Regions from separate parts of the Homo sapiens genome. Here regions 1, 2, 3 and 4 are each linked to region 5. Evidence: fine-mapped expression QTL. A gene starts in region 5. Each other region holds a variant in brackets. All regions are shown on one strand. Distances are between the middles of the regions.

Region 1 (4,126 bases), 52 kb before region 5:
TTTTTCACACCTAGTGGCAATATGGTCAGCTGAAAATGGACACCAGCAAAGAAGGGGAGAAGCGCAACCGTAGTCTGCCTCAGCTCTACAGCAGGATTTAAGCTCTGGAGTCAGACTGAGTTGTAATCCTAGCTCTGCCCTCTTGAACAAGTTACTTAATCTTGCTGTGCCTTGGTTTCCTCGTTTTACAAATAGCGTCATCTCATAGAGTTTTTCTGAGAGGGAAATGTGAAATGCTGCCTCCAGTGCCTGCACAGTGTCTGCTACATGTCAGCTCTTACCCTGGGGAAAAGGCTGGTCTGTGTGTTTGCTGCTTAGACAGTGGCAGTCGTGTTCTCTAGAAGAGCCTGGAGATCAGGAAGACTGAACTGCTGCGTGCTCGTTTCTGGCAGGTTTGGACATGGCACCTTTCTGCTGTGCCTGGAAACCATTTACCAGAAAGTGACGGGCAAGGAGCTGAGATACGAGGGCCTGATGGGCAAACCCAGCATCCTCACTTACCAGTATGCCGAGGACCTGATCAGGCGACAGGCGGAGAGGCGGGGCTGGGCCGCCCCCATCCGGAAGCTCTATGCTGTGGGGTAGGCTCTGCTCTCCCTCCTTTGTCCCTTTTATGACATCCCCTTCTCTCCCTCCTCCTCTACTCTCACCCCCATTTCCCTATATCTAATTCACTCTTCTGCCCCGAAACTCTTCTCTGCTCCCTTTGCTTTGCAACATTGATTTAGGGTTTTTTCTCCTTTTTCCTTTTCCGGTGTGGCTGCCCCTGCCAGTGATAACCCTATGTCTGACGTATACGGCGCCAACCTGTTCCACCAGTACCTGCAGAAGGCAACGCATGATGGGGCGCCAGAACTAGGGGCCGGGGGCACACGGCAGCAACAGCCCTCAGCAAGCCAGAGCTGCATCTCCATCCTGGTGTGTACAGGCGTCTACAATCCCAGGAACCCACAGTCCACGGAGCCTGTCCTTGGAGGAGGGGAGCCTCCATTCCACGGGCACCGAGACTTATGCTTCAGTCCAGGGCTCATGGAGGCCTCCCACGTGGTGAATGACGTGAATGAGGCTGTGCAGCTGGTCTTCCGCAAGGAGGGCTGGGCTTTGGAGTGAGGGCAGTGCGGTGGAGGTGAGGGGGTGAGCCTGGACCTGTGGGCGAGTCCCATTGGCTGGGCTCTGGCCTGATCACTGGGCTCAGGTCAGGGCTTGGTTCCCTTGCCACCCTTCTTGCTGCCCCATGAGTGTGGCATTACTGGTCACTTGGAAGAAGACAGTGACTCTTTTTCCCTGCTGGGTAGCATTTTGTATGGAACGGTTGGAATTTTCTGGGCCCAGTTCCCACGTGCCTTTCGTGGCAGTCTAACCTCAGGCCATTCTCTTCCCCTGTGTGCCTCAGTGTCCTTCTCATTTCAGTAGGGACTTCTGAAATGGGGGAGGCAGTGTGGAATACTGTGGATGTCTGTGCAGAGCCTTTGCCGGCACTGAAGGCATGCAGCCTGTCGGCAGAGTGTCTTAACACCAGATGCTACTTTTTACTGTATTGTAGTTTATTGCCCGGAGATGTGGGGCTTTTTTTTTAAATAAAATAATCATAATAAATGTTCATGATGCTGACTCTTGTGAAGCTCTGTCTGGAGTGCACTAAAAGTCCTGTGGGGAAAGGAGGAGTGAGTGGTGTGGGCGGCCCAGGGTCTGGGAGATGGGTGGCATTTCAGCTCCACGAGGTGCCCACATCTCCTTTCCTACCTCCCGCCCCCAAGTCCACACCCATTCTGGGCTGTGAAGCCTGAGGCTGTCTATGAATGAGTATGCCTGGCTTTGGCATATACTTAGCAACTTCCCTGGTGTGGAAAAGAAGAGGGATCTTGTTACTGGTTTGTTCTAAAGGAAGCAGCTCTTCCTGCAGTGATTCTAGAAAACATGCCGCTTCTTGCATCCCTTCCTCTAGGAGTAACCAACTTCATTTCTTCATTTGTCTGTGTCACCCATGGCCTCAGCATCTGCAAATCCCCCAGTCAGTTCTCGTCCTCATTTTACTCCAGTAGCTGTTTGTGTTTGACATAGCTGATGCCTCCCTCCCTTGTTCTTTTTTTATTTTTTAGAGACGGAGTCTTGCTCTGTCACCCAGGTTGGAGTGCAGTGGCACGATCATGGCTCACTTGAACCTCCCGGGTTCAAGCAATTCCACCTCAGCCTCCTGAGTACCTGGCACTAGAGGCACATGCCACCACGCCTGGCTAATGTTTTTTTTTTTTTT[G/TG]GTAGAGACAGGGTTTCACCATGTTGGCCGGGCTTGTCTAAAACTCTTGGCCTCAAATGATCTGCCTGCCTTGGTGTCCCAAAGTGCTGGCATTACAGGTGTGAGCCTCCACGCCCGGCCTCCTTCCCTCATTCTTAAAGCCCTCTTGGCTCTCTCCACCTGACTACTCTTTTTTTTTTTTTTTTTTTTTTTTTGAGATGGAGTCTCACTCTGTCACCCAGGCTGGAGTGCAGTGGCATGATCTCGGCTCACTGCAGCCTCCACCTCCAGGTTCAAGCAATTTTTGTGCCTCAGCCTCCCGAGTAGCTGGGATTACAGGCGCCCGCCACCACGCCTGGCTAGCTAATTTTTGTATTTTTGGTAGAGACGGGGTTTCGCCACGTTGGCCAGGCTGGTCTCAAACTCCTGACCTCAAGTGATCCACCCTCCTTGGCCCCTCAAAGCGCTGGGATTACAGGCGTGAGCCACTGCTCCCGGCCTAACTGATTTCTTTTTTTTTTTTTTTTGAGACGGGAGTTTTGCTCTTGTTTACCAAGCTGGAGTGCAGTGGCATGATCTCGGCTCACTGCAGCCTCCACCTCCAGGTTCAAGCAATTTTTGTGCCTCAGCCTCCCGAGTAGCTGGGATTACAGGCGCCCGCCACCACGCCTGACTAGCTAATTTTTGTATTTTTGGTAGAGACGGGGTTTCGCCATGTTGGCCAGGCTGGTCTCAAACTCCTGACCTCAAGTGATCCACCCTCCTTGGCCCCTCAAAGCGCTGGGATTACAGGCGTGAGCCACTGCTCCCGGCCTAACTGATTTCTTTCTTTCTTTTTTTTTTTTTGAGACGGGAGTTTTGCTCTTGTTTACCAAGCTGGAGTGCAATGGCGTGATCTCGGCTCACTGCAACCTCCACCTCCCGGGTTCAAGCGATTCTCCTGCCTCAGCCTCCTGAGTAGCTGGCATTACAGGCACGTGCCACCACACCCAGCTAATTTGTTGTATTTTTAGTAGAAATGGGGTTTCACTGTTAGCCAGGCTGGTCTCAAACTCCTGGCCTCAGGTGATCCGCCTGCCTGACCTCCTGAAGTGCTGGGATTACAGGCATGAGCTACCGCGCCCGGCCCTCAGCTGATTTCTTGACACCTTTGCTTGGATGCCTCAGAGGTGTTTAGAGGTTAGGGAGCAAAGGAGGTTGAGAGAGTGGCTATGAAACAGGAGAGCCGGTGTCTTGGAGGCTGAGTGGCTGAGTGCTGAGGAGCTGTGCTCATTCCCTCGGTGTAAGTGTTGCTGTGTCCACGACCAGACACTGAGCGCAGTCCACACCTCCTGCTTAACTGTCTTCCCCAGCTTAGGTGGCTGCAGCAGCTCCTTCCTCTCCTTGTCTAGGCCGAGGGCCTGGCGTCCTGCTGAGCTCCTCTTAATTTCCCAAGTGAGCTCTGCTACCCACCACGCCCCGCCCCAACTAGGCCCCTGGCCTCACCTGAGCTGTTACAGCCACACTTCATGGCCTCCCTGCCTCCGCCCTTTTCTTTCCCACTTGCTCTGCTCACTCATTGGCAGATCACGTGGTCTGTTCTCTGATGAAAGCCCTCCAGTGACGTCTCAGTCAGAGCAAAAGCAGTGATTTCTTACCATGGCACAAATGCCTCTTCATCCTGTCCCACCGCTACCCCCGGGACCTCACCTGCTGCTTTCCCCATCATCATTCACACACGCCACCCTTCTCCACGTTCACTCCTGCCTAGGGCCTCTCGCAGCCCCTCTGCCGGGCCACGGTGTCCATGTGGCACATGCCATCCCTTCCTTTTCCTTTTTTTTTTTTTTTTTTGAGATGAAGTCTCGATCTGTGCCCCAGACTGGAGTGCAATGGCGAGGTTTTGGCTCAGTG
Region 2 (4,000 bases), 22 kb before region 5:
GACAGCGGACCTGCCAGTCCCGGAACCTGTCCAGGGCGGCGCGGAGCTGCCTGCCGCCCGGGCTCCGCAGGTAGTTGTCCCCCGACAGCTCCCCTACGCGGTGCATGCGGCCCGGCTGGAACATCTCCAGGTCCTGGATGCGGAAGTACACCTCCTCGAACCTGTCCATGAGCGGGTACCGCGGCGCCGCGCCGAACAGGTCGGGGACGTCGCCGTCACAGCTGACCTCGCTGAAGTAGCAGACTACGTAGGTGCCGAAGCAGGCTGGCCTCTTGAAGTCCGGGAGGATCATGTTCATGGCTGCAGTGAACAGGTCCCCCACGGGCTTTCCGTGGTCGCAGCGCAGCCGCACAGGCGCCCCCCGGCCCAGGAGCGCCTGCCACTTGGCGCGCGTGCCGCGGGAGCACAGGACGATGATCTTAGAGTTGCTCTCCACCATCTCCTGCTTCTGACGGCCCACCCAGGTCATGACTCCTGCCTCCGAGATGGCCTGCTCTTCCAGCAGGTCCAGGGCCACTTCCGTGCCGCAGGCGGTGAGCAGGAACTGGGCGAATTTCAGGACCACGTCCACGTAGAGGGGGTGGTCGGCTGAGTAGATGATCCAGACCTTCCTGGGCTTCAGCGGTGGGGGGATCAGGTCAGCCGCAGGCAGGCCATCTAAGGAAACAAGACCACACATGCTGACCCTCACCCCAGGGCCCAGGGCAGCTCTGTGCCTGCCAGCCCAGGAGGGGCCTGGACCAGGACACAGAGCTTGGCTCCCTCCCTAAGCTGAGAAACCCAACTGAGGCCTGTTGGAAAAACCCAGATGTTACTATTCCACCTTTGGCTGCCTGAAAAAAATCAGTCTGCTGCCTTGTGGGAAAAAGAATCTCTCAACGTTCCTAGCTGGTCTTTAGCCTATACTTTAATTAAGAAAAGAAAAAGAGGCACCAAGCTCTGTTGGTCTGCTCCAGGGAGGACCTCTGTTCACAAAATACTTACCTTTCTTTCCTTGTCTGAGTGATTCAAAAAATGGCACCCAGGCCTTGTTATTGGGGGCCCTTCTGAGTGGGGTACTGGAAGGGGGTTTCTAAGGTGGGGTCTCCTGAAGGGACTTGGGAGTTAGAGCACAGGAGGCGACCCACGCACTTATCCCAGGAGAACCCTCCACTGCTTTAAAAATAAGCAAACATGCAAACCAGGAAATACTGACCGGTGTATTTGGTGTCATCACTGTATTTTTCACTTCCAGGCCCTGGAAAGGAAAAGAAATACACTGGAGTGGTTCTTTGGGAAGAGAAATAGAAACCAGCTCACAGGGTGTCTGCCCCATCCCTGACAAAGGGTGAAGGGTAAGGGGGCAGCCCCGAGACTGAGCAGCGAGGCCGTGCTAGGTGGTCGCACAGGCATGAGTCCTGGGTCTGCCACTACGAGCACTATGACCTGGAGCAGTTACTAGTGCCTCTGAAATGCAGCTTCTTCCTCTGTGAGGTGGGTCTGTATTTGCTCTTGTTTAATGGGTATTAAATGAGTGTGTGTATGTGACGTGCCTGGCACGTTGTACATAATCAATTGGGATCACAGTTATTTTGTAGCACTGATCCAGCTGGGACCCCCAGTGCCGGGGGGCAGGGGGTGGTGTCCATTCTGGTTCCTCATTACGGTCCTGGTCTGCCCTGTCTCCCTGAAATTTGGCCACCCCAAACTGACTCCACATGAGGAAAAGCTCTTCCCCAGAAGTGTCTTTACAGAAGACATGCATCTTACCACACTTCTTTCCAGAAGCAGCCCCACCAGGCTGCTTGCAACATTTCCTCCTGGTATTTTTGAGGTGAGGAAGGGGAACCCACATACTTAAGCAATTGTTCCCCTCAGAGATGTGATGAAAAAACTGCTCTGCGGGGGTTAACTCCTTAGTGACAGCTGGGAGGATTGAGATCCACAGATGACTGAGCAAACGACTTAGAACCTTAATCTCAATCCTAACCCTTTCAGCTCTTCCCCAGAACTGTCACAAGACAGCCAAATAACAGCGAGGCTCCTCTTGCCTTCACCCTGTGGTGCAGGACACTTCGGAAAACAGAAGCGCAACAGCAGAAAGGAAACCAAAAGCGCCGCCGCC[GCCC/C]AGCCCCAAACCTTTAGAGAGCTGCACCGCCTGTGGAGCACTGGCCGAGATGCTACTGAATGTTATTGGAACCTCCCATAGGTCCTCCCATGCCTGGCTGGTTTTCTTTCTACCACATAATAATTAATAATGATTAACACCTAATCCTGACGAGCCTAGGGAAGGGTGGAAACAGCTTCCCAGATGACGGAAGGAGCAGCCTAGGGTCATGGTGGGGCAGGCAAGGGCTGAAGCCCCAACCGGAAGGCCTGTGTTCTCCCGGCTTAGGACTTGGCCAGCAGAGGGCTGCAGGTGGGAGAAGACACTGGTATGTACTAATCCCCACCAGCAAGCACCTTCCTCAGCTACTCATTTAACCTTCGTCACACCCTTAGAGGGAGGCATTATCAGTACATTTTACAGAAAAGTGAATCCATGGTGTATTAAGTAACTGGCCTGTGACTACAAGGCTAATGAGGTGGGGCTGGGGTCCACCCCTGTGGCTCAGGGCAGCCGGAGCCTTCTCTATCACCCGATGCTGACCCTCACTATTCTCCCTGACCCCAGGCGTCCACGTCTGGCGGCTGCAGGATGGGGTTGTTCAGGCTGCTCCACCTGCCTGGATGATCATTCCTGACACAGGGAAACTTTACTCCGGCTCCTTCCAAACTATTGATTTTAATAATACTACATTTGATAACAACAAATATAATCGTGGCTAACAGATACTGTGCAAATAGCACATGCCAGGTTCTGTGCTAAGAATTCATGTGTCTTATTTCACTCAGTCCTTACAACAGCTTTATGACGTGGTTCTCAAGCAAGAAGCTGAGGCTCTGAGAATAAAGCGATTTGCCTTGGTAGTGAGTGGTGGTGCTGGTATTAGAGCCTGACTCCAGGACAGCCAGAGCCCCAGCGCTTACCAGCTAGCCTCCAGGTCATGCAGACGATGAGCAGGATGACGGAGCCCACCAGCAGGATGGAGATGCCCGTGATGAACCAGTACACCCACAGGGGCATGTAGTCTGCGGTGAGCAGAACAGCGTGAGTGATGCGGCGGGGCCTGCCCTGCCCACCCTGAGGCCCCCAGCCCTGCTCCCCAGCCCCAGGCTCTGTCCTCTCTGGCCCCACCACGACAAACCATGGTCTCACCCCCCACCCCGGGCTGGCCTCGGTTCAGCCTTGTCTGCCTGGCTGAGGCAGGGACTTCTCAAGTGGCCACTGGGGAATGTCCCCTGAGGGCTGCAGTGCTGTCGGAGAGAGATCCAAGCTTACCCGGAATTGGTTCTGCAATGAGAACAGAGGAAAAAGGGAAAATAGCATTCTTAACCCTTCCCAGTCATCACAAGAAACACAACTGACGTCCCTTGAGGGCTTTAATGATGTTGGCCCTGCACCAGGCACTCTAGATCCAGGTTGAACTTAATGAAACCATCTACAAGAGACACTTGAGTTGCTGGTCTAAGAAGAGACACCTTGCCTCCTCCTTGGGAGGCTGGGTTCTCCTTCCAGCCTGGCTCCATGCCTGCGCCTTGCCTTCTGGTGAGCACGTGGCTGCAGCCTCCCGTGCATTAGGGCATGCGACTTTTGAAAACAGCGTCCCTGCTGTGTGATCTTGGACAAGTTATTCAACATCTCTGTGCCTCAGTTTCCTTATCCAGGAACCTGGGGTTTGGGGTGGGGGGATCCTCTACTGCATAGTACCGTGACTCACAATGAGTGAGGATGAAAAAATGGACGGCATGTTGGAGCACTGCGCTCAGTGCATGGCACAGAACTAGGGCTCTAGGATAAAAACCACCTCATTTTCCAGTCAAGGAAGTTGAGAATCAAAAAGATTAAGTAATTTGCCTAAGGCTACATAGCTAATGAAAGACAGCCAGGAGTCCAGCCCCAGGGAGTGACACTCTAAAG
Region 3 (4,144 bases), 30 kb before region 5:
GACATAAGAGGGGCAGAAGGCTTGACCAGAGTTCTCTTGAGCCTCCTCATGCTCTCAGAGCAGGGAACAGCGGGGGAAAATGTTTACACTCCATGCACAATCTGTGCTTCCAGTCCCTCACCCTATGTGGCCCAATAGCTGGCTGGATTTCACACTTAATTGGTATTTTTTTCTGCCTTCTTCCCCTGCCCCCACTGACTCCTCTCCTCTCCCTTTGATTGTACTCAAGGTTCTGGGGCCTGGGCCCTGGGTGGGTACCAACAGCTGCTCGCTGTTCCCATGTCCTCTCTCCAGCTTTGCTGTGTTTCTCTGCTACCTAATCTCAGTGACTGTGAAAGGACATTGTGTCTGAGCCATGGCCAGCCGCTGGCTGGCCCCCTGATCTGCCCCCCTTCTATTGTTTGGATGGCCATCTCCTGCTGGGCCTCCCTGACTGTAAAATCTCTGTACTGTTTGTTAGGTTTTTGGTGGGAGGCTGTGATAAGTTCCAATGAGCTGCCACTTCCCTGGATATGTCAAGAAGCTGATGGCAACTTGGCCAATTCTGGCAGATATCAGGCCCCCAGTTCAGCCCCAGTCACCCTCTTTTACACATGTGGGTCAACCACTGTGTGCTCAGAGGGTCAGTCCCTTCCTCTGCTGTGTTTTTCTTGAGTCCTTGCACTCACTTCCCCTGCCCCAGTCACGATGACCCCTAAAGCTTCCTTTGCCCTTGCTTTCTAGGGCATCCCTAGTGAAGGGGCAAACCTGAGATTTCTCCGTGGACCTGACAGCCAAGGCAGGGCACTGTCTCCTGAGGCCAGTGCCAGCACGTGCATGGTTCACAGAAAAGGATCCTGGGCTCAGAATCTCGAGAACCGCCTGCTCCTAACAATTCAGCAAGTCAGGGGCTTCCTCTCTGTTAGTCCCCAAATCCTTACTTATTTTAAAAAGACTAGACCCTCTCTAAAGACTGTTCCATTTTAACATGTCCTGATTCTGCATCCGTGGGTTTTGTGAAAGAGAGCTAGCTGGCGGTTAGAGCCTGGAAGAAGGAGGGAAGTGGCACCTCACTAGCATTTATCACTTTTTTCCTTCTCTTTTTAAAAATAAAACCAGACTCTGTTCTGAAAATAAAAAACTTGAGACTTGTGACAAGCTTCCTGTGTGGTTTGTTTTAAGATCTTTTCTGTCCTGGTTTCCTTACAAAATTCTTAAATGTCACTGTGACATTCGCCATTATTTTATAAGTTTGTGTTAACATTATGGGTACACCTTGGCCCTTCTAGGCAGTTGGCATGTTTTTCAGGGAGGCAGTGAAGCTGTGGCCTGGAGCTGGTGAGTGTCTTGACATGCTTTGTTGGCACAGCCAGCTCAGCTCTAATGGACTCAGCCTGAGAACGATTTTTTCTCATCACCCTCGGCTCTCTCTCACTTTTCTTTCCTTCCTTCTTTCTTTTTCTTTGTTTTTGAGACAGGGTCTCACTCTGTCACCTGGGCTGGAGTGCAGTGGCGCCATCATAGTTCACTGCAGCCTCAACCTCCTGGGCTCAAACAATCCTCCTGCCTCAGCCTCCCAAGTAGCTGGGACTACAGAAGTGTGCCACCACGCCCGGCTTCCCATTTCTTTCTAAAAGAGTAGCTTTCCAAAGGGGGAACATCTTGAGAAACTAATTTTTAAATACTGTGCCCTCCTCTATCACTCTTGCCCCAGCCAGAAGCACAAATTCTTACGTATGAATAAGAAGAACAAGGCCATGGGTTTTTGTTTGGTTTTATTTTAACATGAAGGGTAGTATTAAGTCTAAGCAAGAACACTGGGCCTGCACCAAAATAAACAAACACACAGTGATTTTTTTTTTTTCTTAGCACAGAGGCAGCCAGTATTACACAGCCCCTCTCTGTGTTGTGACCCTAGCTTGCTGCTTCTGGCTGTGCCAAATGCTAAGCAGGCGTTTCACTCAGGGCAGCCCGGGAGGCAAGGTCTGAGAGTGGAAGCTCCTGGGAGCCTGAGCTCTC[T/C]CTGCCTCTCGTTAGCTGTGGCTTTGGCCATCAACTGGAACTATGTCATTATTTATAAAACAGGAGCAATCACAGGGCTGTGGTGAGAATCACATGAGGTGACACATGTGAAATGGTCCTTTCCCCTAAGACATATATAATTGTAACAAGGAACAAAATTTACATAGAAAATAATTACAGAACAACGTAGGACCATGTCTTCATTTCTCCCTGGAGCGGATGTAAAATAAGGTGATTGATTTGAGCAAGCATGTTATGAATATTTAGAAATGTCTTCTAGGGAAGCAAGCTGGCGCTCACCGATTTTGGTTTGCCAGGCATATCAGAAGGCACTTTGTGACAGGTGCAGTAGGGACGCGGAGTGATCTCTTCACGTGTAGGCAATGCCCAGCCCACACCTAGGCCTTGCCTGAGTCTGGCCATGCAGTTCTTGCCCTAAGGAAGAACAGGAAAATATAGCGCGTGGTTGACTGTCAGGCCCTCTGCCCCTTCCCTCGTCACAGCCACCTTCAGGGCTGCTTTCTCTCCATTTTCCTGAGGCCGAGAAAGAGGAGGTAGCTGGCACAATGCCACATTGCAGTCAGGAAGAAAAGCCAGTGTGCACCAAGGCCCTTCTTCCTCCCACATCTGCACTGCTCCAGGCAACCTTCGGTAGTCGGCTGTTGCTTGGGTCCAGCTTCCTTTCCATGAAAGCTCAGCCATTCTAGCAAAAAAGCAGGGGCTGTTTTCATCTTCTGAGAGAATCCCATGACACTGGTGAGCAGAGGCGGCCAGTGGGACACCCGTGCAGGGAAGCAGGCAAATGCAGGGACCAGCCACCCGCATCCCTCCTTTCTACTCCCTCTCCTCCTCCTACCTGGTCACTGTGTACCTTCTTCCTGTCTCATCAGAGAGGAAGGATCCAGTGAGCGAACTCATCTTATAGTCAATGACCTAAGGGGTTATTCCTCCTGGGAAGGACTCCAGGGGGAGGTGGGCTGGGCCAGGCTTCCTGGCACACTTCAAACCATGAGACAGGAGACTGCATGTTCCTCCCACAGGCAAGACTGGCCCACCCGGGTGACTGCCTGCTTTCATCAACCTAAATGGACAGGGCGAGAGTGTGGACCCAGTGCTAGGATCTGGGAGAGGCGATGGGGCATGGAGAGCCATGCAGAGGTGGAGGGCAAGATGGACCTGGATGCCATTTCAGAGTGAGGGGAGGCCCCGTGGGGAAAGCGTCGGGTACAGAATTAACATGAACAGCTTGTGCAATGGGTTTAGGGGTAGCTGCTTTTCTTCATATTCTTCTATAAAATATACCCATGGAATCCATATTGTTGCCATTTTTCCACAATGGACATGTTCACTCAGCCAAGTACTTCCTGAGCTCCTGAGAGACGCCAAATATGGGAACACATATTACTTCTATAATCTGAAAAGGCAAACACCGGAGGAAGAGAGCAATACCTAATAGCAGGGAAAGAGGATCAGTGGTACCTCAGGGGGCACAAACTGCTCTGCCCCAGAAGCAGGCTGGTGCCACTCGGGGATACTGCAGGCTTGCCAGGACCCCATGAGGTGGGAACTCCTGCCCCACCCACTTTACAGATGAGCAAGCTACCTAGGGCGGACGAGCAGCTGGCCAGCCCCCAACCCTGCTGCCTCTTCTTTGTAAGGATCCTCTGTCCGACACAGTTGACTTGTGGGATGCAGGCCCGGCTGCTGGAGCAGCGGCCCTCCATCTCACTCTGTCCTCAGGTGCCCCGGGCCTTGCTGGAGTCCCAGCTGGCAGGGCGCTAAGGCAGAAGAGGGCCCTGCATACACCTCATTTATTTAGGAAGGGGAGCACCAACCACAGAGCCCAAAGGCTATAGAGTTAAAACCACCCACTGCATTGTAAGTACATCTTCTTCTCTCTTATGCCCTATTTAATTTTCAAAGATAAACAGGAAAGGCCAGGCACGGTGGGCTCAGGCCTATAATCCCAGCACTTTGGGAGGATGAGGCGGGCAGATGGCTTGAGCCCAGGAGTTCGTGACCAGCCTGGACAACATGGTGAAACCCCATTTCTACAAAATATATACACACAAATTAGCCGGGCACAGTGGTGCACGCCTGTAGTTCTAGCCACTGGCAGGCTGAGGTGGAAAGATGGCTTGAGCCT
Region 4 (4,144 bases), 72 kb after region 5:
CACTAGCCTGCTTAATCTTCAAAATCACTCTATCAAAAAGACATTTTAGGCTGGGCCTGTAATCCCAGCACATTGGGAGACCCAGATGGGCTGATTACTTGAGTGTATGAGTTACAGACCAGTCTGGGAAACATAACAAGATCCTGTCTCTACAAAAATAGAAAAAAATAGAAAAAAATTAGTGGAGTGCTGTGGCACATGTCTGTAATCCCAACTACTTGGGAGGCTGAGGTGGGAAGATTGCTTGAGCCTGGGATGTCGAGGCTGCAGTGAGCTGAGATCATGTCACTGCACTCCAGCCTGGGCAACAGACTGAGACCCTGTCTCAAAATAAAAATAAAAATAATTAAAAAGGGAAATTGCCGAAATCATTTAACCAATAAGATGAGCACCTACCTATCAGGGACAATAAAAGTTTAAAGGGGCCAACAATTATGAAGGCAGTATTGAATTCACTTGAAATATGAAGAACACCACATTGGGTGAATTTAGATAGGAAGGCCAAGGAGATATTCCTAGGAATATCATTATATATGGAAAACACTGAAAAAAGACACTGCAGTGTTTGAGAAAATAATGGCCATAGAAACAGATTTCATGGACCTTCCAGCTTATGAAAAAATCAACTGAAATTGCTCAACATTAGGTTAGAACATTAAAAAGGAAAAATAAGCCATTATAGAAGGAGAGAATTGGAATAGGGGACAGGAATGACCCATTTCCCAGTCTCTGCCTAGAACAGGGCTGGGGAAAAATCTGTGGTCATCATATTCACCATTGCATAAACACATATTTTTTCTATATGTCAGCAAGGAGCAAGTGCTACCAAGACAAGGCAAGGAAAAGGAATAGAGAATATTGCTGGGTGCTTTTCTGTAGGGTGATCAGGAAAGGCCTCACTGAAAAAGAGACATTAGAGCAGAGCAAGTGAGAGAGAGAGAGTCATAGAGAGATCTGTGGGAAGAGCATTCCACGTGAGGGCAACAGACACTGCAAAGGCCCCGAGGCAGGGAGTGCTTGGCATGTCTGAGGAGCCAGAAAAAGGCCAGTGGAGCTGGAATGGAGTGAGTGAGGAGTAATAGGGGCAGAACACATACGGCCTTAGAGATCATGGCTCTAGGTGTTTTATTTTCCAATTTTTAAAATTGTGTTAAAATACACATAACATAAACTATAGTAGTTTAACCTTGCTTAAGTGAACAGTTCAGTAATATTAACATTCATATGGTTGTGCAACCATTACCACCATCCATCTCCAGAATTCTTTTCAACTTGTAAAACTGAAACCCTCTGTCATTAAACAATAGCTCTCTGTTCTCCCTTCCACCCAGCCCCAGGCAAGCACCATTCTACTTTCTGTCTGTATGCATTTGACTATTCTTGGGACCTTATAACAGCAGAATCTATGGTATTTGTCTTTTCTGACTTATTTCACTTACTCTAATATCTTCAGGGTTATTTTAATATTATTTGTCAGAATTACCTTCCTTTTGAGAAATGAAGAATATTCCATTATGTGTATAGACCACATATCCATTCATCTGTCATGGACATTAGAGTTGTCTCCACATTTAAGCTATTAGTGAATAATTCTGCTATGA[C/T]CATAGATGTACAAATACTTCTTTGACTCTGCTTTGAATTTCTTTGTGTAGACACCCAGAAGGGAAGTGCTGGATCATGTGAGCCTCCAACCCACTGTCTGCAGTTGTCCTTGCGCCTCCACTCCGCTGTCCCCAGAGCTGTCATTGATGTTCCACCCTACTATCTTGGAGCTGGTTTGAGTCTGCACCCTGCTGTTCTTGGAGCCTAGAAAGCCCACCAGGCCTGGCCAAACTCCACCCCTCCCTTGGTCTCTCCTCCCAGGCATCAGCACTTTGGAAAAGCCATTATGCACCTTTTAATATCTACGAAAGGTGCCTCAGGAAGGCATGGAGAGGTCACCACTTCCAGGTTATGGTGTCTCACCTGTGTCCACTGGCCCCATGCTGGCCCTTTAAGGGGTAAGAGCAGAACAGGCTGGGAGACTACACCTCTTTTCTCAGAGTGGCTATAGATAAAGCCAGAAAGGGGACAGGAGAATGTGGTGCTGTGGGCAGGATGCTGAGGGCAGAGGCCCCTCCCCACAGGTGCTGAGCAGGTCGGGCAAGGAGGAGCTTCCAGCCTCCATCCAGGCAGGACTTCTGACCACTGCTAGAGGCCCCTTCTCAGGAGGTCCTGTCCCAGCCAAGGGCCAGCTCCAGAGACTTTTGTCCATCTTCCCTAAGATGGACACGATGCAGGTGGCTGTGTCTGGGCCCTAGAAATTTCAGGACTGAGCCATGGTGAAGACAGGAGGGGATTGTGGGCCCTGGATGTCCCTGTGCAGCCCATGCCTCTAGCTTGGACCATTCACCGCCCAGGTACCTCCTCGCTAGGTCTCCAAGCCCCAGTGGTCATGTGACAGGCCATGGGGCAGGGCTGGGATGGGTTCAGGGCTCCATGTGCTTCCTGAGAGGGCTGAAGGGTTGCATCCCTCCAGAGCAGCCCAAGGCATAGTAGCCACTGCTACCCCACTCAGTCTCGGTGAGCAGGCTTGTCGGGGATGTAGGGGCCTGGTCCTCCAGTGGCAGGTAGGCAGGCAGCGGTGCCTCTCACTCCTCACACTCTGCTGGCAGCATATCCTCCAAACTTGGGGCCCCTAGGAGGTGTCCCCATGCCCTCCTGCTCTCCTCCAGGCTGACAGATTTCCAGGGACATGCTGAGTCACAGGTGAGTACTGCAGTGGCCTCTCGCACACTGAATTCCAAGGCTCCTTGCGAGGTGCTGGCACAGTCCTGGCTCAGCTGCACGCTGGCCCTGTGGGCCCCCATCCAGGTTAGAAGCAGAGTATGGGATGAGGAAAGGGATCAGGCAGCATGATCAGAACTCACCCTGGGAGTGGCAGCCTCCTCCTCAGCAAGCCCTCCCTCCTCCTCCAAGAAGCCCTCCTGATGTCCACACCCAGAGGCCAAGCAGCACCTGTGCCAGGAGCATTCTGTCTTCCTTACTATGTGCCAGCTCAGCCTCAACATGGGACCCTGAGTCTCTTCAAGTCCCCTCACTGCTCCCCTAGCACAGAGCCTGGTGCTCACAGCAGCCTGCACCAGGGTACAGATGGTGACATGTGCTGAGGAAAAAACAAACACTTGGCAGCATGCAGCATGTGTCCCAGGGCCTTTCAGCAGCTACAGAGACTGGGTACCCCCACCTGAACAATTTTCTCTGTCTCTCTCTCTCACACACACATAGCATGACGGACAGGTGACACGAAGACTGGTGACTTTCAAGGTGCTTGGGAAAGGCCAGCAGACCTGAATCCTTCTGTGGGGACACAGGAGACCTCTGCTTCCAAAAGGAAGCTCTTCCCTAGGTGGGACCAGAAGTATCCATCCAACACGCCACACACACACCACACCCTCCATCACTGCACTGCTCCCTGCCAGACCCTCACCCAAGGCCTAAATAATCCCTGGCAGATGCCCTGGTTCTATAGAGAAGGGCTGGTGTCTGCAAGGGGATGACACAGGCCAGGGTACGATCACAACCTCTGCCCCGCTCAGACTTGTCCTCAGCTGCCCAGGCTCTTGACAGTCACATTTGCCACTGTGAGGAAAGATGGGAAATCTGCCAAGACCCAAGTGCTCAGTTTTAAGCTTTAAATTATATTTTTGAACAACAATCCTAAGAACTGGGCTTCCTGTTGAAAGGGAAAATGATTTTTCTACATAATATGCTGGCAATACTGTGTGGAGGGGATATCTCTGCTGCACAGGGTCCAGGGAAGCCCTGCAGCACCAGGAAAGGAGATCCTGGTGTCACCCTACAAGGAAGAAGCTGAGACAAAGTTAATCTTAGTAGAGAGTTTATTTGAGACAAACTTCAGGATTGCAACTCTGGAGCATAGATTCAAGTTATCCTGAATATACACTGCAATTAGCAGCAGTTATGAGCTGATTTTTAAAGGCAAAACAAGGTGGGCAGGGAAGGGGCAGATACAATTCCTCAGGAATTTTAGTTGGTTCATAGCAATAACACTGCTTAGTGATGGGCCGTACACTGTTAAGCTATAGGGTGTGGGGTATGGCGTCTGGTGTGGCATTATGAGGTAAATTCATAGCTACTTCTG
Region 5 (4,128 bases):
CTGGAAGGTGGCATGGACTTACTTTGAGAAGGCTCACCCAGTCCTGCCTTTGTGGAAATGAGGGAACCCAGGCCCAGGCAGCCTCAAAGCCCGACTGCAGAGACAGTAAGTGCGATGCTGCCTGCAAATCCAGGTCCTCTGGCCACCTCTGTGGCCTTCCCTCCCCTCACTATACCACATTGCATCCACTAAAACACCAGTGAGGGACAGAAATTTGAAGGATGTGTTTTCTTTCTTTTTAAAAGAACTAGTCAATGGAGCCCAGAGCTGTCTATCTCTGGAGAAGAGCTGTCTGTGAGGCAGGTGTATACAGAAGAGAGAGAGAGGAAGGAAGAGAACGAGAGACTGCAGACAAATATGAACAGCAAGTGTCTCTCTTCAGCCCTCCCTGGAGCCAGGCCGTGCTTCTGCTCCTGACTTACAGTTGCTTCACTGTGCAGTGAAAGTCAGAGCTTGGCTCCCACGCCACGCACAGCAGAGTCCCATCCCCGCTTCTGGCATCTTTTCTCACTGTCCTATTACACAGACCCTCCATTCCGGCCACACACCGTACCCTGTCCCACTTAAGGACCTTGGCTCAGGCCCTTTCCACCACCTGGAATGCTCCTGCTACCCCCACAGGGCTGCCCAAATGCCTTTTCCATGAAGGACACCCCAACTGGAAGCAATTTTTCTTTTTCCTGGAATTCCGTACACTTAGCAGTTGTGCAAGCAGCTTTGCTAGACAGTTCCCTAACTTCAAGCCTTGTTCCTCCCGTAGATGGGTTAGGTCTCTGGATATTAGGGTCCCCAGAGTATTTATTTATAGTTCCAGTTCCCAGTATGGCGCCCTGTACTCTGCAGGCACCTGACCAATGGCTGTCAACCCAGGCGCACCAACCCTCCATATCAGAACGCTTCATACACAGCCTGCAGGAGGGACTAGCAGGGCAGAGGGACCTGCTTTGCCCAATAGTGGAAGTCACAGGACATTTCTCAACATCATTCACGATAAAAACATCTTTTTTTTTTTTTCTGCGACATAGTCACTCACCCTCCACCTTCTTTCGGTAAATCCTCCATAAAACTACATAAGGAGAAATATCCCTTTGTTTTACATCCTCTGACTCAGATACTGAGCATTATTCCTTGGGGTCAGCGGTGGAGGTGGAGGTGGAGGTGGAGGGGAGGAAAGATCCCCTCGGGGATGCGGGGAAGAGGAGAGTATATTGTGGAGGGGCACGGCGTTTTGCTCTTTTTTTGTTTTTTTCCTTAAGATGGTCCTGGCTCACAGAAAGGCCACTACCCGGCAGGCGGGTGGGTCACTTCCTGTGGGCGCAGCGGGGCTACGACTTGACAGCTACAAACGTTCGACCCTCCGACTGCGCTCTCACCGGGTTCCCAGACCCAGGTGGTGGTAGTCGGGGGTGGGAGTGGCGGGAAGGGCGCCGTCTTAAGAACCATCTGCCCATCCTCAGGGCTTCGCGCCTCTGGGGAGGTGGCCCTCAGCCGCCCTCGGCAGAGCTCTCCCCGAAACATGGTGCCGCGTCTCAGCGCTCCGGCCCCCGCGTGGCTCTACGACAGCGGGGTCCCTCTGGGGGCCGCGGGTGAGGGACTCCACCTTCCGCACGGACGACGTGGGCTCGCCCGGCTCCGTCGGCGGCATGAAGGGCACGGCTTGAGGGAAGCTCCCGAGGGCGCGATGGGCCTCCCGAGGGCCGACCGTGCCCCGCCGGGGTACGTGAGGGGCGCAAGGCGTGGAGCTGGGTCCAGACCCGTCCTGGCTCCTCCCCGGGCCCCTTCTCCACAGCCCCTTTCTATCAGCCCTGGCCGCCCCTCCGGCCTGGCCCAGCGCCGCGCCCTCCTTCCCCGAACTCCGCGGCCCGGGCGGAGGTGTCACTCCCGCCTCCAGTCACGACGGCGGGCCAGGTTGTGCAACACGCGCCGCGCGATGTGCCACCCACCCCCCCCGTATTCCACACCGCAACTCCCACCGCTCCGAGGGTCCTCCCCAGGCGCCGCGATATCTGTGCCCAAGGCTCTGAGCCCCTCTAAGCCCGCGGCGCGGACTTCCTGCCTCCCCAGCCCGGGCGCGTAGTCCCGACCGTCCGGCCCTCCGCGACCTTGCCCCGCGTCCGCAGCATCCTGGCGGCTACCGCTCCCCACGTCGAGTCTCACCGGCTGGGAGCAGACCAGCGCCCGGTGGTCCAGGAGTCGCAGGGAGGCGCCACCCGGGGCCAGCACGCCCAGGAGCAGCAGGAGCAGCCCCAGCAGGGGCCCCGGGACAGCGGACGGCGGGCTGCGTGCGGCCCCCATGGCCCGGCTGGCGTCGCGGAGGGCTCGGCCCCGGCTGGGGACGCAGCGAACGAACGTTCTGAGGCTTTCTTTTCCGCGGTGGAGTTCGAGTCGGCTCCACTTTGCTCGCTTCCGGCTTCCAGCCCGGGCCCAGGGGCGGGCCGGGCCGAGGGGAGGAGTTTAGTCTGGGACGGGGAGGGGTTTAGGGTGAGACAGGGCCCTCCCCCCGTTCCTCCTTGCGCCCCTCCTCTCGGCCCTACGCTCAGTCCTCCGGGCGTCCCTACCCAGTCCTTCCGGCGTCCCTCCCCGGCCCTCCTCCGCCCGCGCGCCCCAGGTGCGCTCCTCCCGCTGCTCCTGGGCCTGGCCCGTCGCGCCTCCAGTTGCACCCGCGTCGGGCTAGCGTCAACTCCAGCTGGAGCCTCGCCTGCCCCACATGCACCCTCCACCCTGGCCGTGCCGCAGCAACTGTCGATTTTAATCCTCCGCCCCCACTCACTTGATTCTTGGCCCTGTTCAGACTTCTTGCTTCTCTTGTGGGTCACTGGACGTGAAATCCCAACTTGGGATTTCAGGAAGTCCGTTTTCTTAGTCTCTGTCCCTTTTATTTTTGTTTTTTATTTTACTTTATTTTTAGACAGGGTCTCCCTCTGTCTCCCAGGCTGGAGTGCAGTGGTGCAACCGCAGCTCACTGCAGCTTCGGCCTCCCGGGCTCAAGCGATCCTCCTGCCTCTGCCTCCTGAGTAGATGGAAGCGCGGGCCATATCCCATTTTATTGTCCCCACCCCTTTGCCTGGTTCTGCTCGCTCTGCTTTCCTTGGCTTTGCTTTCTCTTTCTCAAGACAAGGACAGCTCCGGGCTCCAGGGAGGATGGGACAGCAGTCACTTCCAGCCTCCTGGCTCGGACTCGGGGACACTTGAGTTCCTGGAGGGCAGGCAACTTACCTGGTCTGTGAGACTGTGTCCCAGCCGCACCTAAGAGAGTCGTTACTTCCCAGAGGCTCACTCCACGGCCGCGGAAGCTGTCGCCAGCGAATTACACATTTCATGAGTCTCCTTCTTAGCACGCGTGCAGCCTGCGTCCTCTCCTCTCCGGACCCTGGAGGACCCTCCCAAGCCGGCCCGCGCTGCCTCTATCCTAGGTTCCTGCTTCGAGCCCGTCCTGCCCTAGTGCATCCACACGCTCCTGCCCATTCGCCTCTCCTCTCTTCCTCCCAAGACCACCACCGTCCGCTTTTCCTTGCCTATCAAGTGCGCCTCTGCCTGGCCTTGACACGCACGGAGTCTACACTCAAGTGGCTTTTCCCTGTATTTTCCACTGCCCTCGAGAGGTGGGTTTTTTCGCTGCCCGAAGCACCCGCTGACCCCCAGCGACATCTCTATGAGCCCCGCCCGCAGACACGACCCAGCTGAATGAAGCCTGAAGCTCAGTGGCCTTCAAATTGTCTGTTTCTAAAAGAATTTTGGAAAACTGCATCCTCTCATGCATTTTAAAGATGACATCTAAAATTCTCCATCCTAAGTCTAAATAGATGTAGAGGATGTAACTGTTACTTAAAAATCAGCGGTTGTCGTAGGCAGCTTCTAAGATGTGTTCTAGGATCCCACCCCCTGGGAGTCACGACCTTCTGAATCCTCCTCGCGGAGTGTGGGATGGACCCAGAGGCTTGGTTCTAACAATAGAATATGAATAGAAGAAGACAAAAATGATGGGATGTCACTTACAAGATTAAGTTACAAAAAGATCCTGACTTCTGTCTTGCCCAGCCCCTCCCTCTGAGCTCCTAGCTCTTAGGGAAGCCATGCTGGGGCCCAAGTGGCAGAGAATGAGAAAGGCCTCTGCCCAGTGCAAGACAC

What was found.
Region 1: its variant is fine-mapped to the expression of IL17RA in lymphoblastoid cells (GENCORD, PIP 0.95).
Region 2: its variant is fine-mapped to the expression of IL17RA in whole blood (TOPMed, PIP above 0.99).
Region 3: its variant is fine-mapped to the expression of IL17RA in whole blood (INTERVAL, PIP above 0.99).
Region 4: its variant is fine-mapped to the expression of IL17RA in amygdala (GTEx, PIP 0.93).

The regions. Positions count from the first base shown.
Region 1 is chr22:17,135,005-17,139,130 of GRCh38, reverse strand. HDHD5 (haloacid dehalogenase like hydrolase domain containing 5) reads left to right here. Exons shown (of 8, transcript NM_033070.3): 7 at 393-581; 8 at 774-1,611. The coding sequence ends at 1,110. Among named protein-coding and RNA genes, the nearest start is that of LINC01664, 15 kb to the right of the region's middle. RefSeq lists enhancers at 79-785, 786-1,493. The variant G/TG (reference allele first, on the strand shown) is at 2,255.
Region 2 is chr22:17,104,964-17,108,963 of GRCh38, reverse strand. IL17RA (interleukin 17 receptor A) reads right to left here. Exons shown (of 13, transcript NM_014339.7): 10 at 3,362-3,373; 11 at 3,010-3,111; 12 at 1,196-1,237; 13 at 1-657. Among named protein-coding and RNA genes, the nearest start is that of TMEM121B, 14 kb to the left of the region's middle. RefSeq lists enhancers at 808-2,007, 1,965-2,184 and a silencer at 2,954-3,154. The variant GCCC/C (reference allele first, on the strand shown) is at 2,105.
Region 3 is chr22:17,113,287-17,117,430 of GRCh38, reverse strand. It overlaps IL17RA (interleukin 17 receptor A), which reads right to left. Exons shown (of 13, transcript NM_014339.7): 13 at 1,738-4,144. TMEM121B (transmembrane protein 121B) reads left to right here. Exons shown (of 1, transcript NM_031890.4): 1 at 1-1,134. Among named protein-coding and RNA genes, the nearest start is that of TMEM121B, 6.0 kb to the left of the region's middle. The variant T/C (reference allele first, on the strand shown) is at 1,999.
Region 4 is chr22:17,011,115-17,015,258 of GRCh38, reverse strand. It overlaps the pseudogene IL9RP6. Among named protein-coding and RNA genes, the nearest start is that of GAB4, 5.0 kb to the right of the region's middle. The variant C/T (reference allele first, on the strand shown) is at 1,602.
Region 5 is chr22:17,083,259-17,087,386 of GRCh38, reverse strand. IL17RA (interleukin 17 receptor A) reads right to left here and starts at 2,387. Exons shown (of 13, transcript NM_014339.7): 1 at 2,158-2,387. The coding sequence starts at 2,295. RefSeq lists silencers at 1,605-1,854, 1,895-1,994, 2,245-2,364, 2,385-2,604 and an enhancer at 3,158-3,327.